4 linked regions of the Homo sapiens genome follow. The protein of the gene in region 2 interacts with the protein of the main gene of each other region in a pairwise test. Each region holds a gene or a part of one and is shown on either strand. Other genes may lie near its edges. The genes, in order: CDC27, NEK2, RHOB and ANAPC4.

Region 1 (7,121 bases), on a different chromosome or scaffold from region 2:
CCTGTACATATCTATTGAGCAAATTAAACTAAAGCTCCGAACTGAGTGCTCTGGGAATAACAGATTTAGTTCTAACACTTAAGAAAATGATATCCTAGCCAGGCATGGTGCCTCACGCCTGTAATCCCAGCACTTTGGGAGGCCTAGGCAGGTAGATTACGTGAGGTCAGGAGTTTAAGACCAGCCTGACCAACATGGTGAAACCTGACCTCTACTAAAAATACAAAAAATTAGCTGGGCATGGTGACACATGCCTGTAATCCCAGCTACTCCAGAGGCTGAGGCACGAGAATCACTTGAACCTGGGAGGCAGAGGTTGCCATGAGCCAAGATCACCCCACTGCACTCCAGCCTGGGCAAGAGAACAAGATTCTGTCTCAGAAAGAAAAAAAAAAAAAAAAAAAAGTAGAAAAAAAAGTAGAAGAACATGAATGGCACTGTGTTGTCTTGATTAAGAGAAATGGCTTCTGAGAGTCCCAAGGCCAGACTAGTCAGTTTTTTACAGACTAGACCTCCATATGCCAATTAGTTAAGGTGACTGTGGACAGTTGTAAAGAGTTGATATAACTCAATTTAAAATCACTGTAAATGAAAGTTAATTAAGCAGTTTATAATCCATTTAATCCCATTATCATTGCTCCAGTCAGAGTGATATTTATTGGAAACTTACTACCTGAAAGATAGAAGCAAGGAATTCTGAAAATAATGTCTGATTATATTAAAAGGAACTCAAAAGCTGGTATGAGTTCATCTGTAGGAAGAAAATGTCCTACCCTTAGAATGAGTTTAGAGCACATAAATCAGGAGCCTAATTTAAATTATAAATATTTAGAATTGTAGAGGCTGGGCGCGGTGGCTCACACCTGTAATCCCAGCACTTTGGGAGGCAGGTGGATCATCTGAGTCAGGAGTTTGAGAGTAGCCTAGCTAACATGGCAAAACCCTGTCTCTACTAAAAATACAAAAATTAGCCAGGGGTGGTGGTGGGCACCTGTAGTCCGAGCTACTCAGGAGACTGAAGCAGGAGAATCGCTTGAACCTGGGAGGTGGAGGTTGCAGTGAGCCAAGATCGTGCCATTGCACTCTAGCCTGGGTAATAGAGTGAGACTCCATCTCAAAAATAAATAAATAAGTATATATATAGTTAGAATTTTATAGTTGAAGCTCACAACTTAATGAAAAATGTAGTGCTGCTGTTTATTTTTAGGTTTACAAGAAGTTAGGTCAAACGCACCTCGCCCTGATGAATTTCTCTTGGGCTATGGATTTAGATCCTAAAGGAGCCAATAACCAGATTAAAGAGGCAATTGATAAGCGTTATCTTCCAGATGATGAGGAGCCAATAACCCAAGAAGAACAGATCAGTAAGTATCATACATATGATTTTGAGTATTTAGAAAGTTACCTTTTGCATAAGGATTTGTAGGCTACTCTTTTATTTTATTTTTCTAACCATGGTGTTTTCATTATACCAAATGGACTTTTAGGGAAATTGAACAGGGTGATGTAATAACAAAATGCATATAAAGTCAGATAATGAGTCTCTGTTCTGGATCTAGTTTGCTGTGTGACTTTGACAAATTCATTGCTAAGTTTTACCTGGACCTCAATTTATGTTTGAATATGTAACCAGTACTGTTTTATCTGCTTCATAAAAATGTAGTTTTTTAAATAACAGAATGGAGAAATTTCTGACAAGATAAATTCTGATTAGATGCCTTTGTTCCAGAAAACTTGGTGAAAGGCTTTAATTAAAATTATAAGCCATGGGGCCAGTCGCAGTGGCTCAGGCCTGTAATTCCAACACTTTGGGAGGTGGAGGTGGGTGGATCACCTGAGGTCAGGAGATGACACCAGCTGACCAACATGGTGAAACCTCGTCTCTACTAAAAATACAAAAATTAGCTGGGCGTGGTTGCGGGCGCCTGTAATCCTAGCTACTCGGGAGGCTGAGACAGGAGAATTGCTTGAACCCAGGAGGCTGAAGTTGCAGTGAGCCGAAATCACGCCATTGCACTCCAACCTGGATGACAAGAATGAAACTCTGTCTCAAAAAAAAAAAAAAAGTATATATATGCCAGGCATGATGGCTTGCGTATGTAATCGCAGCTACTCAGGAGGCTGAGGTGGGAGGATTGCTTGAGCCTAGGATTTCACGACTAGCCAGTGAGACCCTGTCTCTAAACAAATTTTTAAAAGTAGCTGGCTGTGGTGGTACGTGTCTATAGTCCCAGCTACTTGGGAGGCTGAGGCAGGAGAATCATACCACTTGAGCCCAGGAGTTTGAGGCTGCAGTGAGCTATGATTGTGCCACTGCACTCCAGCCTAGGTGACAGAGCAAGATAGATGATTGATTGATTGATTGACTGATAGACTGACCCCATAAACCTTTTGAAACTGAAGGTTATAGTCTGTGTTTCTGTGGACTAGCAGGGAGTATTCTTAAAGTGGAGTCAGTGATTGGAGGTTGGGGGAAATGTCAATTTTTTTTTTTTAATGTCTCAGAGAACTAGCTAGTTGTAATTCCTAGGGCAGGAATAAGGAACTCATTAGGAAGAGGCAGTTTTGGTAGTTAAAACTTAAAGGTAAAATGCAGTAAGCTAATATCAGACCTATTATAAAGTTAGGAAACTTGAGTTGCATTTTATTAAAGGATATGAGGATTTTTAAGGGCCTTTATTTAGGGTTTTATCTCTCTGAATATAATACAATTTTTCTTACTTGTTTTCATGAACCAACAGGACATATTTGTCAGAAAACTTACTGTGGACTTCTGTTTTATTTTTAAAGTGGGAACAGATGAATCCCAGGAGAGCAGCATGACAGATGCGGATGACACACAACTTCATGCAGCTGAAAGTGATGAATTTTAACTTCTGGAAATCAGACTTTTACAACTGGATGTGTGACTAGTGCTGACGTGTTTCTTGTCCCTCTGTATACTGAGTCTTTACTCTTGAGCTGGCGGTGTCATCGTCCGTCACTTATACCATGAGTGTGCCACTTTCATTGGACCCTGACTGTATACAGAATGAAAGGCAGTGCAATATTTAGCTGCTAACAAGACTGGCTCTTTTACCAGTATGAATGACAATTTATGGGGGGTAGGGTGGGGAACTTTCTTTTCTGTTTTTCTTTAATCTCCCTTTGTTGGAAAGTATCATGAAAGGAAGAGTTATGCTTTATCTTGAAGGAACCATTAGATATGGAAAATAGTGATGAACCAGAGTTTCTTGGTTGCTTTTTCAAAAATTTGTTTTTATTTGGTTCTGTTCCTGATAAACAGAGTAACTGACCTTCATTTCTAGGTTCTTCAAGAATGGTGTTTGCAAGTGCCAGATGGAACAATAAAAGACGTTGCCTATAACAGTGACTTGATTGCCAAGGAATGTAAATTACCTTAAACTTGCAGTATCTCCCATAAACAAATGTAATGGGCATATTGGGACTCGTATGTAGGAATCAAATATCCCTCCATACAGTGTACTCTTATTCTTGGCAAGAATGCTTTAATGTCTAACCAAGAATTTTAATTTATTCATCTTGCTTCAAAGTGTTGATCATTGTTGTCTTGGTATTGCAAACTTTAAAATTGTTTCTTACCATATTGCCTCTTCTCTTTGAGCTCTGTGGGATCACCTTTAACATTCAGAGATGATAGAGTGGTTCCCCACTGAGAAGCCAAAACAAGGCCCTTAATAACCCCTTAAGTTCACCATATGAATCAGAAGGAGAACACTAAAGTGGAGAGACTTTTAAGAGATCATGATAGTGAAAGCCTTAATATAATCAGAATTGTACCATAACCTTGAATCTATATTTGTTCAAAACATCCCTTTGACTTTTCTAAGTGTTTGCTTAAGCAGAGTGTAAGAATGTGTGGTTACCTTTGGTTGAGATCCTTTCCATTCTTTTTGACTCTCTGCTTCAGATTTTTTCAGTAGTGTGAGTCACCAAAACATTTACTAAGAGTAATTGGGTTTAGGATGTTGGAAATTTTTAGCTTGGGGGAAAAAACATTCTTATGAAGGAGATAGGTTCTCTTCTGAGTTTGTCATAATATAGATTGGTGTCTTTGGAAAATGGCCACAATTTTAAGAATTCAATTATGCATATAAAATGATAATTATTGGAATTCCACAGTAACAGATTTAAACAGTCTTAAATTGTTTATCTCCTTTACTGTAATGTATTGAAATTTTTAGAGAAATTTTAGTTGTTAACATTTTATTAAGTGCCAGTGTCAGAATATAACAAATTATAGTTTCTTATGAATGACAGGCCTACAGTTATTATTCTGGATTATTTGATGGAGGACAAACTTACCTGTATTTGTTAGTCAAGCTGTGAAAATAAGGTGGATTACAAAAGATGTGAAAAAAATTTTAGTCTGTAGACTCAGTAATTTTCTATAATTTACTGTTAATCTCATTTGAACATGGATTAGGTACAATTTATAAATTAATTCAAGTCAGGGTCTTTAGGTATCAGGTGCCAGAGAGATATTTAACAGATTTCCCTACCTAAATTTATGTATATGTACTGTCTAAAACAATACTTTTTTAAAAAAAAGGAACAGTTGGGAGAAAATAAATATAATGAAAAATTCCCAGAGGCTAGCACTTGGATTCTAACACGTATGCTATTGTATTATCCATTAGTTCTGTAATATTTAATTTTAGATTCTTTTATTTTTTTAATTGGCAAAGCACAAGGTGCTGTATAACAGTGTCATTTAGAGTTTTATAGAAAGCTTCAACCTGAGTTCTGCGTTATAAAGCCTGGAGAAAGCTAAGCTTAGAACATAACTTGCTGAAGTATAATTATCTTTTTGTAGCAGGAATTTATGTGCCAGAGGTGAGAGTCTTTCTGGTACTGATTTTTTGAGACCAAGGATAAAAGGATCGTTTTGTAAGACATGCCATGGCAATGGCTGGTTGGGGGACAGTTTCCGCCCAAGCTTGGCCTATTTTATTTTTCCTCATACCTACTTTCAAAGTCATTTAGGTATTTGAAGCCTTATTTCCCACGTAGTAACACTTTCTGGCTTTTGCAGTTTCTTTTTTTGTTTGGTTTTGTTTTTTGCATGGAATGGGGATCAAACAACCCGAAGAAGAACACATTTTGATCAAGCAAAATGTTTGCTTCAAATTTCAGAAGTTTATTTTACAGAAATTAAATTAAGTAGTTTGACATCCTTTTCTCTGTTTCACACATATATTAGGTTGGTGCATAAGTAATTGTGGTTTTTGCCATGACTTTTATGGCAAAACCTGCAATTACTTTTGCACCAACTTAATACATCTATATACATATATATATACGCGCACACACTTGTTCAGAAGTTATGTTGTGGCCTTGGATTTGTTTTTCCCCTTGGAAATGGTTCTTAACTCTGGGATTTTAGAAGGTTAGAATATTTTTTCAAGAGAACAGTGGTACTCAAAAGAATGAAAGGTGGTCCCTACATTTTCTGTATTCATCACTTAAAATTTTTAATTTTTCCGAGAACTACAAGTAACATTTGAACCATGCTGCTGTTGTACCTTAAACAAAAACTCAGTGATAACCAGTATTTAGTCTATTAAAAATGCTCTTTTTGAAGAAAAAAGTTTGGAAGTCTCTGATTAGCCAGAGTATAGTATGAGTCTTCACTGAGAAATATGGTGACCCATTTTCTTTGTGAAAACCTGGGAAAATGCAAGTGTGGGTATGAAGTGTGTGTTCTGTTTGCATTGAAACAATGTAATTTTGTGTCTTCTTTTTGCTTTAACTGACTTATTTCAGAAATTGTACAGTGTTGAGGGGGAAAGTCTTTTCTGTTAATATATTTGCAATTCATTAAAGGATATGGAAAATCCAAATAAGTTACTTTTGAAAGCAATTTATAATCAAGTTGTTAAAGCTATATGAAAGCTGTGCCATCTGTATTTTAATAAGAAGGCACAGAAAAACAGAGATACAGTTTTATGTTTCACAAAAAACTAGAGCAATGTTTATCTAATTTTTTAAAACTTACACTCTTAATATATTTATATTTTTAAACGGTCATACTCTTTTTTAGTATTATTTGGAATATCAAAATAAATACTATGACAAAAACAATGGTAATTTTTAGAATACCTTTTTTCAAACTACAGAAGCCCCTTACCAACCAGCAGCTGCGAATTTGCAAGTCAACTGCTTATTCTTTGATCACGTGATTTCTGAAATTTCTTCAAAAGGGACACAAAGGTTTTTTTGTTCCAATTAGAATCTATTTAAAAAGGTCAGGATCTGAAAGAAGTAAGATGTAGAAACTAAATTTTACTCTAATTTGAAATTTTTTTTTTTTTGGTATCTTGGAGAAAGTACAAAGAGCTGAAGGGTTTTATTCAGACTTGAAGAAAAGGCAGTAACAGGGAAAAACATGTGAAGGTGGGGTGAGCTGGGCAGTTCCAAGGGGAACAATGCAGACCTCATAACCTTCCCTAGGACCTGCCATTTAATGTCAGCTGAACAAGGATAAACAGCAGCTTAGACATGGAGCTATTCTTTGGCTTGTTTAGCTGACAACTTATGGTTCATGAAGGTTCAGTATAGGTTTTATTTTTCTTTGTAAGTGCAAACTTTGTTTAAAAGCTATGTTTGCTGAGATCCTGGTCTATGGATTGTGTTACTTGCTTTGTGGATGGTATTTTCAATTCTCATCACTAGAAGGTAGGTATTACTTCATTTTACAAAACAGAAAACAGGCTCAGCTATTAAATGATAAAACTGGGCACTTTTGGCATTAGTGTATGTTCAGAATCTTATATTTTAGTTTTGGACTTCCTCTGGAGGTTTCAAGTCATATTTAATGGTAACTGTAAGTTGTCTTCTCTAGCATTTTTTTAAAGACAGTCTCGCTCTGCCCCGCATCCTGGAGTGCAGTAGTATGATCATAGCTCACTGCAGCCTCGAACTCCTGGACTCAAGCAATCCTCCCACCTCAGCCACCCAGGTAGCCAGGACTAAACATGCACCACGACACCTGGCTCATTTTTTATTTTTTATTTTTGTAGAGTCAGGGTATTGCTATGTTGCCCAGGCTAATCTCAAACTCCTGGCCTCAAGCAATCCTCCCACCTCAGCCTCCCAAA
Region 2 (8,028 bases):
TCATGTTGACCAGGCTGGTCTCGAACTCCTGACCTCAAGCGATCTGCTCACCTCAGTCTCCCAAAGTGTTGGGATTACAGGCGTGAGCCACCATGCCCAGCCAAAACATCTTTTAATGTTAAGCATTCTGAAGCAGGGAAATTGAGTTTTCTGTTTGTTTAGTAATATCTAGTAGCCAAGAATTGAAAATACTGTTATATTTTTCCACATGGACCACCAGACCAATAAAGTCTATATCAGTTTTTGTTTGCTGCATGAGTTATGTGCATTAATGTAAGTATGATGAAGACAGATTCCTAGTCTAAGGTTTGCGCCGTTTGTCATCTCTCACTGGGTTCAATTTTTTGAGCATTCATGCAAATTAAAGCATATTCAGTTCAAGCTTTTATGGAATGACTATGATGCATTAAACTCAAGGATTACAAAAATGAAATGGATTTTGTCCTTGCCCTCAAGAGTTGTTTCCCAATGTGTAGGTCCTAGTTATCTGCATCAGACTCACTTGGAGTGTTTGTTTAAAATGCAGAGTTCTGGGTCCCAAACCCAAACCCAAATCCATCGAGTGAATTTCGATCTCTGGGTGGGTTCTTGAACTCTGTTTTTTTTTTTTTTTAATATTTTACTTTTTATTTTAGACTTTGCATTTAAGAGGCTCTGTAAATGATTCTTGTGTATGCAGAATCAGAGCTCAGGAAGTTTGCTCACTTCAGATAGCATGTTTTTACAATGTTAACTTTTTGTACATTTTATTTTTTTGTTGCCTATCCCTGAAATATCTTGCTGAGTCCACTCACCAATTACCTCTATTGCTGGATATTTTGTTTCCAACATGTTTCACCATTCTTAGAAGTACTGCTCTGCATATCTTTGTATGAATTATTCTTTCTTCCTTTTTGGTTATTTCCTTGGAGTGTAGCTCATAAAATGAAATTGCTGGGGTAAATGTTTATGGCTGTTATTAGATATTGTCTGATGGCTTTTAAAAAGTTTAAGTCAATTGTGATAGCACTAATGTGTTAGTATATAACATCTGAACAGATAAAGATGAAGAAATATTTGTTAGTATTTTAGTAGTTCACCTTTCTAGGATTTTCCAAATATTTATAAATTATGTTAACAGATCTTACTATAGTATAAAACTTTGTAAATTAATGATTTTGGTTTTGACTAAAAATAGCCAGAACAGTACCATTTTCTCACTGTATCAAATTCCAAATAGAATGTTTTTAACATAAAGGACAATTATCCAGAAGTGGTTCTTGGGAAATTTGAAACCTATTCTTTTGTTCCTTTTCCCTCCTGCCCTTGTAATTAGAGTGGTTCAGCTTTCCTAAGGCACTGATTGTCAAAAAGTGGCATCAGACTCACCAGTTGGACTTTAAAACACTAACCAGCCACTAGAGATTGCTTCTATTCCCTCTGTTGAGAATAGGAGCTCTGGTAGGCTGTTGTTACTGTAGATGTGGAAGAAAGGCAAACAATAAAATAGGTAAGGATAATATTAGTTACTACTGTGATTTATGGAGTGGACTAAGACAAAATATAAATGGATAATTCAATTAGCTATTTATGTCTATATCCATTTAAATGTGGACTAGATACATATTTTGACTATTCTTAAATTTCCTCTAGTTCTTTTAAAATGGTGTTTCTTAATTTGCCTTGAGAGTAGAAGTCTCTCATATTCACCTCTGTATTGTCAGTGCCTAGTCTATACTAAGCACTTTCATTTGTGAATGGAAAATGAGTGAATGAATTATGTATGATGGAGTGTATTGGAACAAGATCATTGCCTTTTTTCCATTATAAATTTCAAGATAAAGTATAAGCTAAAAACTTTGAGGTTCTGTTTTTATCTCAGGAGTAATTTAATGTGTTTTTTAAGTTTCAAAACAAAATAAACTCTTAACACCTTCCACTTTCTTACCCTTTTTCCCTGTATAGGAACAAATGAATCGCATGTCCTACAATGAGAAATCAGATATCTGGTCATTGGGCTGCTTGCTGTATGAGTTATGTGCATTAATGTAAGTATGATGAAGACAGATTCCTAGTCTAAGGTTTGTACTGTTTGTCACATTTCACTGGGTTCAGTTTTTTGAGCCTCTGTGCTAACGAAAGTATATTCAAGTCTGAAAGAATTGTACCCTGGGTAAAATTAAGGTAGATAGATGAACAGGCTAAAAGAAACTATTCACAAATTAAAACTATAAGCCATGAGGCTGGGTCTTGACTGTTCAAGGGTCTTGGCTGGTTAGGTGCTTTCTTATTAGATTGACACTTAGCTCAAGGGAGAGCACATAGGTCAGGCAGGTAAGGTAAAGCTACTGTAAGGATGTGGAAGAAATGAAACAAGACTCGGGTAGAGGTCTGGGGATCTGTAGAGCAGGGAAGAGCTCCAATTCTTTTCCTTTGTTCTTCTTTTCATTTTCTTTCCCTTTGAAACTATTCTGTAGAGCAGTGATTCTCAACTAGGGATAAGGGAAGCAAATTTGCCTCTTATGGGGCATTTGATGATGTTTGGATAAATTTTTAGTTATCACAGCTGGGGAGTGCTTCTGGCATCTAGAGGGTAGAGGGCAGGGAGGCTACAAAATACCTATAATGCACAGGACAGCCCCCCACAACAAAGAATTATATGACCTCAAATGTCAATAGTGCCAAGGTTGGGAAACTTACTTATAAGAAGAAAATCCCAGAAGTAGAAACTTAAATACAAACTGGAGCTTAAGCTGTGCTTTTGATTTAGTTCCTATTGTATATTTTCATTTTTACAATTTGAAAATGTCTTCGTCGTCTTCTTCTTCTTTTTTAACCCTAGGCCTCCATTTACAGCTTTTAGCCAGAAAGAACTCGCTGGGAAAATCAGAGAAGGCAAATTCAGGCGAATTCCATACCGTTACTCTGATGAATTGAATGAAATTATTACGAGGATGTTAAACTTAAAGGTAAAGATGATAAGATGATATATTGTCTGTTTCTAGCTGTCAGTTAAGTGTCAGAGCATACATTCTCTCTTGTAGATCAATGGAGACTGAAGAAACGTTAAATATACTTTCTTAGCTAAATTTACTGTGTTAACACAAGTGAAAACATATGTAAATTTGGCAAATTGCACATCCTTGCTGGCCCACCTTCTGCGCTTTCTTTATTTCTCCTCCCACTCTGTCATGCTAACAGATGGTCGGTAGCAAGGAAAGATTGCAAAAAGAATTCAAATTCTCGTTCCCCTTGTCCTTGCCTACCTCACAGTGGCAGGTAGTGAGGGAAGGGGCCAGAAATAAGAGTTTATTACTCTGCCTCTAGCTCTAATTGAGAGATTAAAGACCAGAAGAAGGGGAGGGGTGATGGAGGGCGGACGGAGGACAGCTAAAAACAGAGGGAAAATCAATAAAGAGATTATGTGGAAAAACTCTGGCTATAGAATGGGGAAGGAGATGTTCTGGGGACCAGGCTGACATAAGAGAAGAAGGAAAATGCCGTAGGATCACAGAGAAGGATACAGATGAAGTGACAGGATTGAGAGTCAGTGAGAGAGTATCTTGCTAAATGTAGTTTAGAAATGCAAGGGCAGTACTTCCCCTAAAACAGACCCTAGCAATGCTACCAAGCCCCAGCACAAGATGTGCCAATCTTCAGGGATTGAACCTTCTTAGAAAGGTGAAAAGGGGAAAAGGGAAAAAAGGTAAGTTAACATCTGCATTACCTTGTGGACCCAGAACCTCATGAGTTAAAACCACCAGTGAACTTATTTTTCCAAGTTTTTAAGACCTAGCCATAAAGGAGTCCTTTCTTTTGTCTTGGAAACACATTTTTGTCCTTTTATTTTAACTGCTGTCTTAGGAGGACTATTCTGTTATGCAATCTGACTATAATACTGAGTATTTTTTCCCCAGGATTACCATCGACCTTCTGTTGAAGAAATTCTTGAGAACCCTTTAATAGCAGATTTGGTTGCAGACGAGCAAAGAAGAAATCTTGAGAGAAGAGGGCGACAATTAGGAGAGCCAGAAAAATCGCAGGATTCCAGCCCTGTATTGAGTGAGCTGAAACTGAAGGAAATTCAGTTACAGGAGCGAGAGCGAGCTCTCAAAGCAAGAGAAGAAAGATTGGAGCGTAAGTCTGAATGGGGGTCAAAGCAAAGGAGAACTACCAAGTGGGTTATTTTGATGTGTCTGAATATCTCTTTGAGCAGAATATTTTATACATACAGATCTTATTAGAAGCTTTTGAAAAATACTTGAGAAACCAAAATATGTATTTTAGACTTTTTAATAATCAGGCTTGCTGGCACCTTCATGTTGGACATCTTTCTCTGAGATCAGTTGCTAGTTATATATTATTGGGCCTTAACTGTGATGGCCCTAATACGATAGCCTTGTATTTTACTCTAGAGTTACTTTTTTCTTTTTCGTCTCTACTGTGAATACCCTAATGTTTTCCCACTGTAAAGGAAGGTCTTAAAATTGCTGCTTTCCATAATAAAAAACCATGACTTTTGTCTTTTGAAATGGCCACTCCAACAGAATTCCAGGTCTAAAACCCTACAGTATGTAGATGAGATATGTTCAGGCAATTCTTTTCTTTTTTTTTAACTTTTTATTTTTGAAAATGAGATGGGGTCTCACTATATTACCCAGGCTGGTCTTGAACTCCTGAGCTCAAGTGATCCTCCCATCTTACCTCCCAAAGTGCTGGGATTATAGGTGTGACCTACCACACCTGGTCTGTTCAGGCAGTTCAATAGAGAATCTAGATACAAGATATTTTAAGTCTATAAATAATACTCTGGTGGGTATTAACATTGACTTATGAGTATTAACTGATTAGATGCTAATTTAGTTTTGATATTGAAAGTGTGTCTACTCCACCAAGATGAGAGCTACTCGCAAGCATTTAGGGTTATGCAAGGTAGCTACAGAGTGAGGTTCTTCATTTTAACATCAGGAGACGAGAGATGGGGTCGTATTTGTGACCTGTCACCCTCATGACTCACCTGATTTTACTTCTGCAGCTTTATGCCCAATCCAGGCTTTAAATAATGAAATATTGTATAGTCCTGTGAGATATGCTTACTGTATAGGTACAACCTATACTTACTTGGAAACCTCTGTAAAAAATAAGAAAGCTTTTTCTTATAACTTTCCCCAGTGTTTCATAATTTCTTTTCTTTTTTTTTTTTGAGATGGAATTTCACTCTTGTTGCCCAGGCTGAAGTGCAGTGGCACCATCTTGGTTCATTGCAACCTCTACCTCCCGGGTTCAAGCAATTCTCCTGCCTCAGCCTCCTGAGTAGCTGGGATTACAGGCGCCTGCCACCATGCCTGGCTAATTTTTGATTTTTTAGTAGAGATGGGGTTTTGCCATGTTGACCTGGCTGGTCTTGAACTCCTGACATCAGGTGATCCACCTGCCTCGGCCTCCCAAAGTGTTGGGATTACAGGCGTGAGCCACTGTGACCAGCCATAATTTCATATAGCAACTGAAATCTGAATACTTTCTGAATTTGGGGCCATGAATAAATAGTAACATTTGTTATTAATACTAATCCTATGAACTACCACCTAACTGAATTGTGTTTTTTTTCTTTTGTTTGGGTGTGGTCATTCAACCAGAAGAAGGAGATTTTTGTACTGTGAGGCCAGATCATGCCCTGAAAATTAGCTGTTGCTTATCTTCAGTGAAGAGCAGAGATAGCTTTAGTTTTTTGTTTTCCCAAATGAGTTACTCCCACAAAAGATGACCAAAGGTTGAAGCTAACTTTGTATTTGTTTAAACAAGTCCTTTCAAGAAAATCTAAGATAACATACAGCCTACTAAAACACTCAATTAAAAACTAACATAATCAGGTTGACTGAGGCATAGTGAGAATCCTTTCCCCAAACATTGCTTATCAGTATCAGGCATGCTAGTAGTGATAAGATTGCCAAATGTAAATTGTTTTTTAGTCAAGGTCAGTTGTTAATTTTTTTTTCTTTGTCCATTCTCTTTTTAAAGAGAAAGAACAGGAGCTTTGTGTTCGTGAGAGACTAGCAGAGGACAAACTGGCTAGAGCAGAAAATCTGTTGAAGAACTACAGCTTGCTAAAGGAACGGAAGTTCCTGTCTCTGGCAAGTAATCCAGGTATGAGAATCAACTTGGTCAACAGAAGCTGGTGCTACAAATGAAGAAATGTGCACCAGTGTTGCTCCCAAAGTGGCTTAGGTAGCCCTTTTCATTTACAAATCTCAAATTTTAAGATGGATTTCATTGAATATATGCATTTCAATGGAAACAAAATTCTGTTATAGCAATGATTTATTTCCTGGGTTCATAGACCTGAGGCAATGAGTCATAGAATTTCATGTTTGATTTTCTTTACCTTATCAAACTACATGTTTAGTAATTGATACTTATTTTTATTATCATTATTTATTTTTTTATTTTTTTTGAGATGGAGTCTCACTCTGTAGCCCAGGCTGGAGTGCAGTGGCACAATCTCGGCTCACTGCAAGCTCTGCCTCCCGGGTTCACGCCATTCTTCTGCCTCAGCCTCCCAAGTAGCTGGGACTACAGACACCCGCCACCAAGCCCGGCTAATTTTTGTATTTTTAGTAGAGACGGGGTTTCACCGTGTTAGCCAGGATGGTCTCGATTTCCTGACCTCGTGATCCGCCTGCCTCGGCCTCCCAATGTGCTGGGATTACAGGCATGAGACACCGTGCCCAGCCGATACTTATTTTTAAAAATTAGGGCATTTACAAAACTATTGTATGTTTCAGATTTCAGAGAGATAAACTGCATTTCAAGTAAAAATAAACATTTTAATATTGCCATGCCTCATTTTTCATAGAAAGCATGGCTTAAAAGGCATGATAAGCCACCTGCAGAATAGGCTGTCACGTTTGGATCTTTGCTAACACCCTTTCAAGTTGAAAGACATATTTGTTGAAATTTGATTGTTTAATATCTACATATGTTCTCTGCATTTCCTTCTTTATTTAAAGTCTGGTATATAGATATTCAGCTTTCTCAGGGCCCTGCCTTTGTGTGGCATTGTCCCTTCACTCTGCCGCACTGAGATGTGGTTATCGTATATACCAGTGAACCATTGTCTAACATTCTCCATTTTATAGAAACCCTCAATCTAATTTAATCGACTCTTTAAGATTATGTAAAATGCAAACTGTGAAACATCTTTTTGCTTGATTTATGACACAAACTAACTGTTAAAAGTTGTTGGTTTCAAAAATCGAGCATCTGAATTTTCAATAAAATTTAGAGTTTTTATAACTCCCTTATTCCATGTAGGACAGCATATATGAAAGCTATTATTCCCATCTTTAATAAATTGAGATGTAGTGTGATCAATTTAGTGAGCATTGGCAGCATTTTGTAAATGGAACAGACAAAAAACCCTACTTAAGTTAGATTGATGATCACAATAACTTTGTAGTGAATAAGTGATGGAAAGAAATGAAACTACTGATAGAAGTAAATGAAACAAGGATTATATGAAACTTTGGCTTCATCTCTGTTAAAATACCTTCTTTTTTCCCAATATTGCAGTCTACCATTTCAATATTATAAAAATATTTATTCTGGCTTTTCATAGATTCCACACTGTCATCCATAAAGACAAAATAGACTTAAATCATGATTAGGGTGATAAAATGAGGAGAAAATTTTACCTGGATGAATTTCATGCATCAAACCCATTGCAGAGAATTACTTAAGACCCTGTTGGGGATGGCTGTTCGGTTAAAGAGTTTATTTACATTTGCCCTGATAGTCTTTGAGCAAAAGATGAAAATAGCTAAGTAAGGATGATGTGTTTTACTTTATAGGATACACAGATAAGTATGGGAATCTACTTATATGTGAATCATGGCAAATATTTAAAATGAGCCATAGGAATCAAGTATCCACTGGGGCAAGCAGACATTTTAGGGTATTGAGTGCTGAAAGTAGTGAACACATCAGAGCTATAAGATAAGCATCATAGCAGTGGGGAGCGGGTACCATTCTGAACTCAGGACAGTTGGAAAT
Region 3 (7,006 bases), on a different chromosome or scaffold from region 2:
ATGAATTATTATTACTTCTAACTATACCAGAGTATCCAGCAATGGCTTTCTTAACTGGGGCAAAAACGGAATGATTTTTGTGGCTAAAGTTGTTTTAAATTTCTGTACATTATAATAAACGAAAAGTGAAGTCCATTAGTCTGTAAGTTAGTGAAGATCCATAGACTTTATCTTTCTCTTCTAATTTCTTTTAGAAGTTACTATTTAGGAAGGAATTTTTTTTTCCACTGAATGGCATTTTCGTTAATATTTTTGTAAAGTGTATATGAAAAAGTTATGTGTGTATAAATACATATGAAGAATTTCTAAGAATCTACTTGTAAAACATTATTCAGAGTTTTATATGCTCTGAAATATTTTAAAATAAAAATATCCATAAAATGCATACTTTTTGACCAAAGGTTTTCTTTTCTTTTCTTTCTTTTTTTTTTTTTAAGAAAAAGACCCCATAAAGATTGCCGCAAGGTGGCACTAAAATCTAATGAAAATTCCAACTCTGCTCTGGTCTTTGAGGAGTGTAGAATGATTTACAGGAGACACCTGGCAAACAAACAAAACCAAATAAATTAGGTTAAAGATTAGAGATAGATTAATATCCTCCTTTTGTCTGAAATACAACTTCCCTGTCTCACAGGTGTGGATATATTATGTCATAAGATGAATATGTTAATAAAGTTAATTGTTAACATGACTTGTTCTTGGCTGGTGGCGGTGGCTCACGCCTGTAATCCCAGCACTTGGGGAGGTCTAAGTGGGTGGATCACTTGAAGTCAGGAATTTGAGACCAGCCTGGCCAACAAGGGAAAACCCTGTGTACTGAAAATACAAAAATTAGCCAGGCATGGTGTCACACGCCTGTAATCCCAGCTACTCGGGGGTCTGAGGCAGGAGAACTGCTTGAACCCAGGAGGCCGAGGTTACAGTGAGCCAAGATCATACCACTGCACTCCAGCCTGGGTGACAGAGTAGGACTCTGTCTCAAAAAATAAAATAAAATAAAATGACTTGTTCTCATAGAAGAATCAAATTTTATCCCTGTCTGAGGAAGTGTATTATGAAGGGCAAGGGACAGGGAGGGGCTTGTCCGGCATATCACCTAGTTGGGAAAAGTTTATCCTGTGTGTGGGGCAGTCTTGGAAGCAGCCAGTCTCTGCAGAGCTTGTCAAAGTATCCTGGACTAAAAAAAAAAAAATACCATGAAAAGAAGTTACTAAAGAAGTTACTGCAGAACACAGATCTATTTGTTTACTTTGGCATTTTTACCAACTGCATAGTTTTAGAAATTATTGCAATATTGAGATTTGAGCTTGGAACACCTCATATAATATTCCTGGAAATCAGAACACGAAGGAGTTCAATCCGTTTTCCGGATTCTTTGTTTTTTAAAGAAAAAAACACATGGTACAAAGCTTTGTTTCATATTTCTTGGTATTTGAAGTTTAAGGACATAGCCAAGTTTCCCAAGCTATATTAAGACCAAGGAAAGCGGCGTTAACAATACAGCTATAAAAGGTTTTGACTAAAAGAAGAAAAATTTGTGTAAATAAGACTTTTCTAATAGGAAAAAAAAAAAGCTTCCAGATTGCATCCTTAAATCAATGAACAGAAAAACTATTTACTTGCTGACAGATCAGTTCCTTAGATCTGAAAAACAAACCCCCGCCCCCCACCGCCCCGGCCAACAACAACAAAAAAAAGCTGGTTGGCCGGTTGTTGTAGTGATGTGAATCCAGTCTGAGGGAAGCACAGCACTTCCAGTCGTCTAAATAAGACGTTCCCTCTAGGAAGGGCTCTAGGCTTAGCAGCACTACTGCCTTATTTGATCTGATTTCATCTGTGGAGCCATATGGGGACCTAGCTCTTAACATATGAATTACATGTGAAAACACCGGGGTTCAGTCACAGTTGGCTGCATGGGTTTGCTTAATGATTTTCTTTTTAATGTTTACTTTTTTTTTTTCTTTTGAGCCAGGGTCTCATTCTGTCACCCAGGCTGGAGTGGGGTGTTGTGATCATAGCTCACTGCAGCCTTGCCCTCCTGGGCTCAAGCAATCCTCCCACCTCAGCCTCCTGAGTAGTTGAGATTATAGGTGCAGGCCACTCTCCTCCCCACGCCATCCCATTTTATTTTTCTCAGGGACAGGGACGGGGTTTTGTCATGTTACCCAGGCTGGTCTTGAACTCCTGAGCTCAAACAATTCTCCAGCCTGGGCCTCCCACGCCCAGGGATCACAGGCATGAGGTACTGTGCCCGGCCTGGTTAGATAATTGTTAAAGCGAAGTGTGGAACTGAGGTAAGAAACCCCCAGAAAATTCCACCTGCGTTTCTGAGCATTCGGGTTAATTCCCCACAGTCATTTACTGATCCTTGTAAATGCCAGGCATTGTGCTGGGTCTTCAAGATGCGGAGATAAGACAGAATCCTGGCCCTCCAACAACTGACAGAGACCGAGACAGAGACGGAGACAGGAGGCAACCACCTCCCGGTCATGTGGTGGGTCCCTCCTTTGCTGAAAAAACAGTTTGCAGACATTTCCCATGCAATGGATAGACAGAGCCCAGCCCATGCTGTTAATACTTTAGCACTCATGAGCCCCAGCATATGCAGCTCCTAGAGTTTGCCCCGCTCCTTCCCACCTTCCTGCTTGTGTTCAGGCTGTTTCTCCTGCCCGGGAGCCCTCCCCGACTCCCCTTTCCCCCTATCCCCTTCTTCCTCTTTTATCCGTAGAAATCGGTTGACTTGGGTCTTTCCGGATCACCGGTACTGTCATTTCATGCAGGATCTACAGGATAAATGAGTTCAGTCCTGGCGTGCATCAGGAGGCTACGCCCCAATAGAGGGGACACCCCCTAACCCGCTGTGCCCCATTTGCTAGCCCCTTACTCCTCCCCTCTTCTCCAGCCTCAAGCCTTTTCGTCTGCTCAGGGGTCTTGGGGTGGTTGGATTCTATTGAACCCGGAATATTGTACGTTCTATTGTACAATAGTGTATATTCTATTGTACATTCTATTGTACAATAGTGTATATTCTATTGTACATTCTATTGTACAATAGTGTATATTCTATTGTACATTCTATTGTACAATAGTGTATATTCTATTGTACATTCTATTGTACAATAGTGTATATTCTATTGTACATTCTATTGTACAAGTGTATATTCTATTGTACATTCTATTGTACAATAGTGTATATTCTATTGTACATTCTATTGTACAATAGTGTATATTCTATTGTACATTCTATTGTACAATAGTGTATATTCTATTGTACAATTTATCTCAGACAGTTCTCTGTTTTAAGAACCGGGATCAGAGTTCATAGTGAAAAGAGGGGCCGAAGGGGCTTCTTCCTGTCCGGTAACTTCCTCCAAGTGTTCGAGCCTCGACCTTCCCTTTCCGTTGTCAAGCTTGGGCCACTCCGCACCTCTTCCCTTAATCTTCACCTAGAGACCTAAGCTGGGGGTTGGGAAGGGTAGGGGCGGCGGGACTTGGAAGAGCCAGTTTGCAGCCAGCCGGTCGCCTCTCGGGTCCAAACCCGAGGCTGGCCCACGGCGAGTACCCGGGTGGGGCCCTAAACCACAGGAGGGGCCACCTCCAAAAGAAAAGAGAAAACACTCTTGTTTGGGAACAAAAGTGTGTGTGTGGGGTGTGTGTGTGTGTGTGTGTGTGTGTGTGTCTGTTTATTTAAAAACAAAACCACGTTAAAAGAGCTGCCCCTCCCCCACAGGCCCGACCACCCGCCGGGAGTTTGCCAGGAAGAGGGGCAATTCTGAATGGGAGTCGCCAACGCCCCACTGAGTGAAGCCTGTCTCGGAACCGCTCGCCCAGACCCTGGAGGCTCCAGACAGCCAGCTCCCGGACCCCGCGCGCAAACGCTGCGGCGAAGGAGGGGACCCGGGTACCGCCAGAGCCCCGCAGCGGCAGCAGCAGCGCGGACTCCCCGGTCGCTGCCTCTCCCAGCCCGGCGGCCTGGGCCGTCAATCAAGCTGGCCCTGCCCCGCCCTCGGGCTGCAGGGGGCGGCCAATCAGAGCTAAGCTCCGCAGCGATGAGCTCAGCCGGCTGGTTTCCCATTGGACGGCTATATTAAGAAAGTGGCCGGACTCTTTAAATAGCGGGCGCTAGGGCCGCAGCCCTCATCTGCCACCGCAGTCTGGTTGGAGCTGTTGTCTTGTATGCTCAGCGAGGCCCGGAGAGACCCGGGAGAGAGCTAGGCCGAGTCCACCGCCCGAGTCTGCTGCCCGAGCCCGCGTTACGCACAAAGCCGCCGATCCCCGGCCTGGGGTGAGCAGAGCGACCACCGCCCGGGAGCAGCGCGGCGAGACGCACGGTGCGCCCTATGCCCCCGCGCCCCCACCGCCCCCGCCGCGGCAGCCGAAGCGCAGCGAGAGAACGCGCCACCGCGGGGCCCGGGTGCAGCTAGCGACCCTCTCGCCACCTGCGCGCAGCCCGAGGTGAGCAGTGAGCGGCGAGCGGGAGGGCAGCGAGGCGTTCGCGGGCCCCCTCCTGCTGCCCGGGCCCGGCCCGCTCATGGCGGCCATCCGCAAGAAGCTGGTGGTGGTGGGCGACGGCGCGTGTGGCAAGACGTGCCTGCTGATCGTGTTCAGTAAGGACGAGTTCCCCGAGGTGTACGTGCCCACCGTCTTCGAGAACTATGTGGCCGACATTGAGGTGGACGGCAAGCAGGTGGAGCTGGCGCTGTGGGACACGGCGGGCCAGGAGGACTACGACCGCCTGCGGCCGCTCTCCTACCCGGACACCGACGTCATTCTCATGTGCTTCTCGGTGGACAGCCCGGACTCGCTGGAGAACATCCCCGAGAAGTGGGTCCCCGAGGTGAAGCACTTCTGTCCCAATGTGCCCATCATCCTGGTGGCCAACAAAAAAGACCTGCGCAGCGACGAGCATGTCCGCACAGAGCTGGCCCGCATGAAGCAGGAACCCGTGCGCACGGATGACGGCCGCGCCATGGCCGTGCGCATCCAAGCCTACGACTACCTCGAGTGCTCTGCCAAGACCAAGGAAGGCGTGCGCGAGGTCTTCGAGACGGCCACGCGCGCCGCGCTGCAGAAGCGCTACGGCTCCCAGAACGGCTGCATCAACTGCTGCAAGGTGCTATGAGGGCCGCGCCCGTCGCGCCTGCCCCTGCCGGCACGGCTCCCCCTCCTGGACCAGTCCCCCGCGAGCCCGGAGAAGGGGAGACCCGTGTCCCACAAGGACCCCACCGGCCTGCCTGGCATCTGTCTGCTGACGCCTCTGGCTTGCGCCAGGACTTGGCGTGGGCACCGGGCGCCCCCATCCCAGTGTCTGTGTGCGTCCAGCTGTGTTGCACAGGCCTGGGCTCCCCACTGAGTGCCAAGGGTCCCCTGAGCATGCTTTTCTGAAGAGCCGGGCCTCAGAGTGTGTGGCTGTGTGTCTGTTCGACTCCCCTCGCCCCATTTTCACCCCACCCCCGCCTCTGATCCCCGGGGGCGAGATTGGCGCGGGAGTGTGGCCGCGCCCCATCAGATGTTCGCCCTTCACCAGCGGGAGCTTGATATCCCTTGTCTGTAACATAGACCCCGGGTACTGCGGGAGGGGAGGGCTGCTGGGGAGGATGGGGGGATGTTATATAAATATAGATATAATTTTATTTTCGGAGCTAAGATGGTGTTATTTAAGGGTGGTGATGGGTGAGCGCTCTGGCCCAGGCTGGGCCAGACTCCCGCCCAAGCATGAACAGGACTTGACCATCTTTCCAACCCCTGGGGAAGACATTTGCAACTGACTTGGGGAGGACACAGCTTCAGCACAGCCTCTCCTGCGGGCCAGCCCGCTGCGAACCCTCCACCAGCTACCGGAGGGAGGAGGGAGGATGCGCTGTGGGGTTGTTTTTGCCATAAGCGAACTTTGTGCCTGTCCTAGAAGTGAAAATTGTTCAGTCCAAGAAACTGATGTTATTTGATTTATTTAAAGGCTAAAATTTGTTTTTTTATTCTTTGCACAATTGTTTCATTGTTTGACACTTAATGCACTCGTCATTTGCATACGACAGTAGCATTCTGACCACACTTGTACGCTGTAACCTCATCTACTTCTGATGTTTTTAAAAAATGACTTTTAACAAGGAGAGGGAAAAGAAACCCACTAAATTTTGCTTTGTTTCCTTGAAGAATGTGGCAACACTGTTTTGTGATTTTATTTGTGCAGGTCATGCACACAGTTTTGATAAAGGGCAGTAACAAGTATTGGGGCCTATTTTTTTTTTTTCCACAAGGCATTCTCTAAAGCTATGTGAAATTTTCTCTGCACCTCTGTACAGAGAATACACCTGCCCCTGTATATCCTTTTTTCCCCTCCCCTCCCTCCCAGTGGTACTTCTACTAAATTGTTGTCTTGTTTTTTATTTTTTAAATAAACTGACAAATGACAAAATGGTGAGCTTATGATGTTTACATAAAAGTTCTATAAGCTGTGTATACAGTTTTTTATGTAAAATATTAAAAGACTATGATGATGACATTTATAAAATGGCTCTTGTGGTTTAATAGTGTGTAAAAATACCCTTGTGAATTTGGAACAAGGGAGATATTCTCCTAGGCGAGATCCTTTCTTGCCAACTCCGTTTCCCTTATAGCAAATGTAGTAAATGAGGATGAAGTCCCTTTGAGAGCATGTGGGGGTTGGGTGACCAAGGGAGACCAGGTTGTTCCTGTCACATTCCTAGAGGAAGATGAGTGGATACCCCGACACCCAGTGCAAAAACTTTTGACCTATTATGTACTCAGTTCAATTGGGTGAGACCGAAGATCTTGATTTCATTCATCTGTGTGTCTTAAAAACACTTGTGTCTTTAAGTCTATTATGGGGCTTTGCTTATTCTTTGAGTCTTGGAAAGTTATCATTTGTGCATTTTAAATTTAGAAAACCTTTATTAATCGTTGGTGTGGGGTCACGCTATCAGGAAGCCTGTTTACTGGGTTCCCTTCAGGCCATCAAGGGGTTTACACAATATCCCAGGAAGTT
Region 4 (7,931 bases), on a different chromosome or scaffold from region 2:
TGACCTCAGTTAATGGGAAGCAGGCAGCCAGGCTAACACATTTCTTCACCATCTAGGTAGTAGGTGCTCATAAATACCAACTGAGTGAACGGAAATGCCATTTAATATACCGCTTTATGCCTCACACCTTAACTATACTATGGAAGAAGCAGATACACTTCGAGCTCTCTAGGTAGGACAGCTTCCACAAAATCTAAAGGAAAATCCAGTTTCACTTATTTGATGTGATTTTAGTTGGACCATGAGGACCTGGGCTGAAATTAAGGGTCAACTAAGAAGGTCATTGCAATAAAGTAAAGATAAGATCTCTGCTATTTGATTTCAGGCAATTTAGTATAAATGTTAACTCAGCAAGATGAGGCTATAATAGCACCAACATTGAGCAACAAGATCTCAGAGCCCTGAGAGGCTGAGTTTTATCCCAGTTGTCTTTGGTGGAACAGTTAGTTACAAGATCCCTGGTTTAACTGCTTCATACCACTGGATACTAGAAGAGGTGAAACAGCCGGTAATCTCTAAGATGGTAGGCCTGAATAGATGGGTCAGTTTCTTCATCTGCAAGTGTGGAGAGGAGGAGTGGGAGAACACTAGAGGAAGTCAGCCCAAATATTCCACATGCTTAAAGAAGACAGGCCAGGTGCGGTGGCTCACACCTGTAATCCCAGCACTTTGGGAGGCCAAGGGTTGGGGGGGGGTGTGAAGGGTGTGGATCACCTGAGGTCAGGAGTTCGAGACCAGCGTGGCCAACATGGTGAAACCCCGTTTCTACTAAAAATACAAAGCCGGGGATGGTGGCGGGTGCCTGTAATCCCAGTTAGTTACTCGGGGCAGGATAATCACTTGAACCCGGGAGGCAGAGGTTGCAGTGAGCCGAGATCACGCCATTGCACTCCAGCCTGGGCTACAAGAGTGAGACTGTCTCAAACAAACAAAAAAAAAACAGAGGAAAACAAAGGTTGCTGCCTGTTAACTTTACAGTTAATACATGAGCCAGGTAAATCAAGGAAAAATAAAAGCATCTCTAACCCTACCACCCAGAGATAATCACTATTATAACTTCCCTGTCTACTGTTCCAAAGATAGGTTCTTGCATAAATAGGCTTACAGACACATGCAAAAATTTCCCTCAAGAAAATGGAATTTTAAGTACATACTGTTTTATGACCCATGCTTTTTCATAAGTATACTGTGAACATCGATTTATGTCTGCATAATATTCTTCAGGATAGATATATTTTTTAAAAATCTATGATGGGACATCTAGGTTGTTTGCATTTTTTCACTTTCGTAAATAACCTTATAATGAACATGCTTAAGTAAATATTTATTTCTCCTGCCCTTGCCTCCTTAAAAAGCACTGATAGCCGATCCCTGAGCCTTCTTCCCTTTTTCTCTTTATTCTGCAGTATTTTCCTAAGGATGGGGGAGGCAAAAAACGGAGTAGGTAGAGCTAAAATCTTTATGGGGCAGTGGGAAAAAGAAAAGGCTGGAAACACGATGTGTTAATATTTCTTGTCTTACGGCTACTTTGGATCATTTCCAAGAACAATTCCTGCCCCTTACTGCCTACCAACACACATGAGGGTCTATAGCAAGCTTGTCTAACTCGCAGCCTGTGGCCCAGGAGGGCTTTGAATGCAGCCCAACACAAATTCATAAACTTTCTTAAAACATTGTGAGATTTTTTTTGTGATTTTTTTTTTTTAGCTCATCAGCTGTCATTACTGTTAATGTATTTAATGTGTAGCCCAAGACGATTCTAATGTGGGAAGACAAAAGATTGGACACCCCTGGTCTATAGCAGCATAAAACTCTGCTGTTTCCTGCCCACATCTGGAACTCCACACTTAGGCTGTTTCCTTTGCTGTAAGGCTTAGAAAATTTATATTCTGTGAAGACTTAATGTGCAGGTGGTTATACTCTGTCCTTTGCAGTACGGTGTTTATGCCTCTGGGAACAGTGATTTTCACGTGCTGTATGGGTGTTTGTATTCAGGTAAGTTCCAGGAAAATGGACATTCAATTTCCGTAAGAAGGTTAATGTGCATAGATACTAGACCCCCACCAGGTGATCCATTATAACTGCCCCAAAACACTAACACCTGAAAATGCATTTTGTGAAAAACAAAGGCAAATGCATTTTTACCTTAGAAATGTTGATTCTGGAAGAGTTGGGGGCACTTGGTAAGTTGTTTGTGGCAAAGGCAAGGGCTGCAAAGCCCGTGACAGGAAGCAGGGTAGGTATAAAGTCAAGGATTAAGAACAGTACTTGGCACAAAATAGTTACTTGATGCTGAATGAATTAGTCTCCCTCCGTCATCTACTTCCCAGGGGCTAGATCCAGACAGAGGTCAAGAAGATGGGGCCTGTTGAAAGTTAAAGGACCTGCCGTCTGTTTCTTCTTTGAACAAGTGAAAGGTAGTAAAAAGTAGATGGCTTTCTACCATAGGTTTTAAGTTTAAGAACCCTAGGATGGTACTGTCACATTCTCTTAGGGAGGTCATAGCTGTGGGAACTGTCAACAGGTTGACTCATTTAAATGTGTCCTACATAAAGCAACATCAGATGAGTTCTGATTTACAAGTCTGCCAGGCTGGCCTGTGAGCCTCTGGGCAGAGTTCCCGTCCCATGCATTGCTGTAGCCTCAGTTCCTCCACATAGTAAATGCCCAAGTACCTATAGAAGAAATCGTGTGTGAGCCCACACTCTTTTTTTATATTTTAGAGACGGAGTCTGGCTCTGTTGCCCAGGCTGGAGTGCAGTGGCACAATCTCGGCTCACTGCAAGCTCCGCCTCACTGCAAGCCCCGCCTCACTGCAAGCTCCGCCTCACTGCAAGCTCCGCCTCCCGGGTTCACGCCATTCTCCTGCCTCAGCCTCCCCAGTAGATGGGACTACAGGTGCCCGCCACCATGCCTGGCTACTTTTTTGTATTTTTTAGTAGAGACGGGGTTTCACCATGTTAGCCAGGATGGGCTCTATCTCCTGTCCTTGTGATCCGTCCGCCACGGCCTCCCAAAGTGCTGGGATTACAGGCGTGAGCCACCGCGCCCGGCCCTGAGCCCACACTCTTTATTCGTTATGACGGTGCTGCAACTACCAATAAGTTGTGAGGGTTAAATGGGATGAGATGTCACAGTATTATTTGCCTGTTAGGGAGGTTTTAGGGCACGCGCCTCTTCTCTCCAAATTGGAATCACCCAAAGAGTTTTAGTAAATACTGGGCCCATCCAGGGTTAATTTTCTTCTAATTGGTTTGGGGTGCTGCTTGGACAGGGGGACTTTTAAAATTCTATACTGACCCACCAGGACTGACATGAGAACTACTCGCTTAGTAACTGTTAGAGGAGGCGCCAGCTGATCAGGACCTAAAGTTCATATTCTTTTTCATCTCCCCGTTGTCGCTGAAGCCTACCCCATAAACCCCTACCGTCCCTTTGCCCACAGCAGAGAATTTCCGGGAAAACGGGAAAGGTATGCAAGCATGCCCACACACGTGCACACACGGGTTCCCAAAAGACCTGCGTGTGGCCGCAGGGGCCTGCCCCGCCCTTCTCGGGCCCTTTCAGGTCCCGGCGCCCAGCGATCCCACCAGCACCTGGGTCCGGCGCGCGGCTCCCTCCCTCTCCGCGCCCCTCGGGGCTCCCTGCCCCGCCCGCGTGCCCCACCCTTCCTAGCTCTGCCCCATCGCTGCTCCCTGCCCCGCCCACGGGCCCCATCCTACCCCCACCTCGATCCGCCCCTCGCTCCTCCCTGCCCCGCCCACCGCGCCCCGTCCCTGTCCGCCCCTTCTGGCTCTCAGCACCCCCAAGACCGGTGCGCGCCCCGCCCCTCCTCCTCCTCTCGCGAGGCAGTCCCGACGCCGGAAGTGCCTGGAGCGCGCGACAGCGGCGGGGCGGGGCGGCCTGGAGGCTGTGGCGCGCGGCCGGCAGAGGGAGGGGAGAGGCCACTGGGGCCGTGTTAGTCTGCCGGTGGGGACTCTTGCAGGTACAGGCGCGGTCGGGGCTCCTCGTGGAGAGCCGGGGGCTCCTGCCGGCCTCTGACTGGGGTGTCGTTGCAGGGCCGTCCCCATGTTGCGTTTTCCGACCTGTTTCCCATCCTTCCGGGTGGTGGGAGAGAAGCAGCTCCCGCAGGAGATTATTTTCCTGGTCTGGTCGCCCAAGCGGGATCTCATTGCTTTGGCCAACACAGCTGGCGAGGTGAGTGAGCCGGCGGGAGCCCGCCTGTGCTGGGTCTGCTCCCGGGGGGCCCAAGAACACCGAGCCCGAGCCTGTTCATTCGGGCCACAGGCGGCCGGAGCCTCAGTTTCCCCTTCTGCAGACATGGCTGGCCACCTGCTACCCCTTCCCTGCCTCCCAGGACGGCAGTAAACTTTAAGTATATATGCGAAAGGTGATGTCTGTGCTATTTTCGGTACTTTTATGGCTAAAGTAACAGTTTTCACACAGCTTAACACCGTCACGCAATCCTGCTTCCCCAAGTCTTCTTCACTCATTGGTTTATTAGTTAAATGAACTTTTTAAAAAAGCCCACTATGTGCTGCTCATGAGCTAGACATAATGGTAGATGCAGGGACCCTGCCCTAAGTTTGCTTACAGTTTTAATAGCAGTAGGAAGAGTTATTGTCAAACTTCAGCTGCAAATGTGCCTGCATGTAGCTGCCACACAGGATATATTTAAGAACCTGGCTTCTCTTGTCCACGTTTTATAGTACGGGTTGGATAACCACCCTCCACTAAAAATACCTCTAAATTGGACAAGGAAGGCATGCATTGGATTCCAGACAGAACGTGCATGGGTGTTATCAGCATTTCTTGTTCACATAAAACTTCATCGAGTATAAACCAGTTGTACCCAACTTTCTGCTGAGAGTTATTACCTGCCAGCCATTTTGTAAGGAAACCTTCACCTGTGCATCTTTCCGCCTCTGGCTTGAGAGTTATCTGGCCATGTGAGAGTTGTATAGAGCCAAATTTGGAAACTAGGTGATAAGGAAATCTTAGCACCCTGCAGACTGTAGTCTGCACCATGTTATCTACCATGATCCAGTCGCCAGGGTATTGATGTCTAATTTTTCAGGGCCCTCCATGAAATCTAGCTAGTCTCCCTCCGCTGCCGGGATGCTTTGAAACTCTGTTGTGGCTCTAGAGAGCAGCAGGTGGTACCGTCACAGAAGTAGGAGGGAAGGTAGACGGGAGGCACATCCGTGCAATCAGATGGGTAGGCGTGATAGAGGGCACTGTTACATCCATTTTCTCAGTGAAGGAAGAAGCAAGGGCATTGTTTATGGGTGAAGATGGAGAAGAATATATTGGAAGTTTGAGGAGAAAGAAGAGGTATGAAAAAGCTAACAAAGCAGGTGGACTTGGGAAACCTAATAGGATTGCCAGTCAGTGTTAAGACCCACATGAGATCGGTGTTATTATTTGAGAGACACTGGTTGAATAAGGTTGTATGTGTCTCTCTCCGTTCTGTTTGGCTGTGTGGGTGCAGGCATGGTTGGGTTTAACCAGGATTGTCGTTTTGCAAGTATGACAAAGCAAGGCAAAGATGAAAGAGAGTTGAAGTTACGTGCAAGAGGAGTGATTGTGTTTCTGAACTTTGGGTTCTAACCTGATGAAGGAGGGAAGTGAAGGCATGTGTGGGGAGAGGGACAGTGAACAGGTGGTAGAATCAATAGACTGTATCCTGGTGAGGTCAAAGAATTGGAGTTGAGTGTTGTAGAGATGACCTGGAAAGAGGGGTGGTGGATGGAAAGTGGGAAGTTTAAAATGGAGATTTTGGTGGCCCTGCAGTTGTTGGTAATGACCAGGCCGGAGGTGTGACCCTGGGAGTGGCTGAGTGCAGTAGAAGATGTGATCACTGGAGGAGAGGTAATTGAGAGCTGAAAAGCCAGGACATCATAGCTCTTGAAATCACCAAAAATGATGATGAGTGTGTTGTTAGAAGGCATGAGCAAGCCAGGTATCCAGATCTTTAAGGAATGAGGGGAATGGCCTAGGGGTCTGTAGAGGACTGCAATTAAGACGGATAGCGAGTGGTATGGTCTGATTGCATGTGATTCAAAGTTAGGAGATTTACAAGAAGAGAAGAAATGGCATCAAGCATCAAGGAAGACACCTACTTCATCTCCTAGCCCAAAAGCAGCAGTACAGGGGCTGTGGGATACAAAATGGCCACCACCTAGCAAGGCTGCAGGGAAGCATTGTCCTCAGGTGAGAGGCACATTTCAGAGAAAAGTACGAAGATATTAATTTCATGATGACACCTGACCATGAGCTGCAGAAAGCACAGAGGAAGGGTTTCAGAAGTAAGGTATGGCAGGAGTGGTTTCAGAAAAGAGAGGGTCAAATCCAGGGGATGTTGTAACCAGGAGTGAAGGGTGCTGTGAGCTGTGAGATAAGGCAGGGTCATGGTGGCTTAGCTGAGTGTGGAAATGGGGAGGGGTCTTGGAGGAGCATGTGCAGTGGTGAGGCCTTTTCTTCCTTACTGTCAATGGTTGTATAGAAGCTGCAACGGGGCAGTCATAGAGCTCTTGGGCAACATTTTGACCTTCCAAGGTGGGAATTTACTGATGTGGAAATGGAGATTTAGAATGGTTAAGTGATATGTCTAAGATCCATGGCTAGTGAGTGACACAGCTGAAACTAGGTGCCACGTGGACTAATTCCAAGCTTAGTATAATTTGACTGTATTACAGCTAGCTACCTTTTTAGTGGTGTTTGTGTTCTTTTATTTCTTTTTTGGTTGTCACCTTGGACAGCCGCCTTCTTTATAAAAGGTAAGTCTCCCGTTGACATAAAAGATTAGGTACAGGGTTAAATTAGACCTTGTTTCACCCATTTATTTTAAAATACCTTGTGTTCATTCAGACACTGTTGTCTTTTTCTATTCTTCTGATAGCTAAGTATATATGAGAGATGGTCATTTAAAAAAATTTTTAGTAGGGATCTAGGTTTATTTTATTTTTGGAAATGAATTTTTAATTTCCTGCCATTATATCTGCTTTGTCTTAGGTTTTACTTCATCGACTGGCAAGTTTTCATCGAGTTTGGAGTTTTCCACCAAATGAAAATACAGGAAAGGAGGTGACGTGTCTGGCATGGAGACCAGATGGCAAACGTAATGATAATATTACAAAAAAAATATGTTTTTATTTTCACAAAGAGTATTCTGTAAAGCCCATTTTCAGAAAGGATTTATTGTTCTTAGTATACATAAGAATTATAAATATCACTTTGGGAACTTTTTAAAAAAAATGCCTTAAAATATTTTTATAGAACTCAGATTAATTCTGCTATCTTGTTTCTTGGCAAAGATATCTCTTAAATAAAATCTGGCTTCTTGGCAAAGATAACTCCGAAGTGAAATCTGATGGAATATACAAAATGTTTTGGTTTTGTTCTTTCCACTGTCATCTTGTCCTGTATTATTTGGCCCAAGCACCACTTGCCACTCGCCAGTGAGTTAGTTCAAAGCCATCATGGCCTTTTTCTTTCACAATATATTTTAGCATGAAATGTGTGGCTCATATTCCCTTGGTGCATGTGTGTTTGCCTCACCTGGGGGACTATCACCTTTGACCCCATACCTTCCATTTCTGTGTGTGATCTTTCTTCTGGTACCCTCTTACGTTAAAGCCTGTTATGGCTCTGGTGACTGAACTCTCCTTTTCCATGTAATGTTTTTACAATGACAGTCTGTATTGGAACTGTTGTACACATACAATCAGCACAGTAAAATGCTGTAAACCCTACAGCTTAAAGTTCATTTGTATCATTGGTACTTTAAGAAAAAAGTGAACTGTTTTTGTAAAATATGTGTTGTTCTTTGCTTAATTTTTCTGTAGATAAATATAAAGTATTTAAAAATTTTATTGGTGCTTTAAGAAAAAAAGTGAATTGTTTTTGTAACATATATGCTCCTCATTGCT

Evidence for each region.
Region 1: the proteins of NEK2 (region 2) and CDC27 interact in binary tests that used the Homo sapiens proteins (3 or more experiments, as listed by UniProt).
Region 3: the proteins of NEK2 (region 2) and RHOB interact in a two-hybrid assay, tested with the Homo sapiens proteins (one study listed by IntAct).
Region 4: the proteins of NEK2 (region 2) and ANAPC4 interact in binary tests that used the Homo sapiens proteins (3 or more experiments, as listed by UniProt).

What each region holds. Positions count from the first base shown.
Region 1 is NC_000017.11:47,116,687-47,123,807, reverse strand, and holds the end of CDC27 (cell division cycle protein 27 homolog), read left to right. Parts: intron 1-1,188; coding exon of another isoform or gene 1,189-1,207; coding exon 1,208-1,364; intron 1,365-2,790; coding exon 2,791-2,873; 3' UTR 2,874-6,105; downstream 6,106-7,121. UniProt on the Homo sapiens protein: Component of the anaphase promoting complex/cyclosome (APC/C), a cell cycle-regulated E3 ubiquitin ligase that controls progression through mitosis and the G1 phase of the cell cycle.
Region 2 is NC_000001.11:211,665,201-211,673,228, reverse strand, and holds part of NEK2 (serine/threonine-protein kinase Nek2), read left to right. Parts: intron 1-1,944; coding exon 1,945-2,027; intron 2,028-2,821; coding exon 2,822-2,948; intron 2,949-3,896; coding exon 3,897-4,116; intron 4,117-5,997; coding exon 5,998-6,123; coding exon of another isoform or gene 6,124-6,167; exon of another isoform or gene 6,168-6,812; intron 6,813-8,028. UniProt on the Homo sapiens protein: Protein kinase which is involved in the control of centrosome separation and bipolar spindle formation in mitotic cells and chromatin condensation in meiotic cells.
Region 3 is NC_000002.12:20,442,935-20,449,940, forward strand, and holds RHOB (rho-related GTP-binding protein RhoB), read left to right. Parts: upstream 1-4,139; 5' UTR 4,140-4,531; coding exon 4,532-5,122; 3' UTR 5,123-6,506; downstream 6,507-7,006. UniProt on the Homo sapiens protein: Mediates apoptosis in neoplastically transformed cells after DNA damage. Not essential for development but affects cell adhesion and growth factor signaling in transformed cells. Plays a negative role in tumorigenesis as deletion causes tumor formation.
Region 4 is NC_000004.12:25,373,360-25,381,290, forward strand, and holds the start of ANAPC4 (anaphase-promoting complex subunit 4), read left to right. Parts: upstream 1-3,903; 5' UTR 3,904-3,985; intron 3,986-4,058; 5' UTR 4,059-4,068; coding exon 4,069-4,197; intron 4,198-7,014; coding exon 7,015-7,120; intron 7,121-7,931. UniProt on the Homo sapiens protein: Component of the anaphase promoting complex/cyclosome (APC/C), a cell cycle-regulated E3 ubiquitin ligase that controls progression through mitosis and the G1 phase of the cell cycle.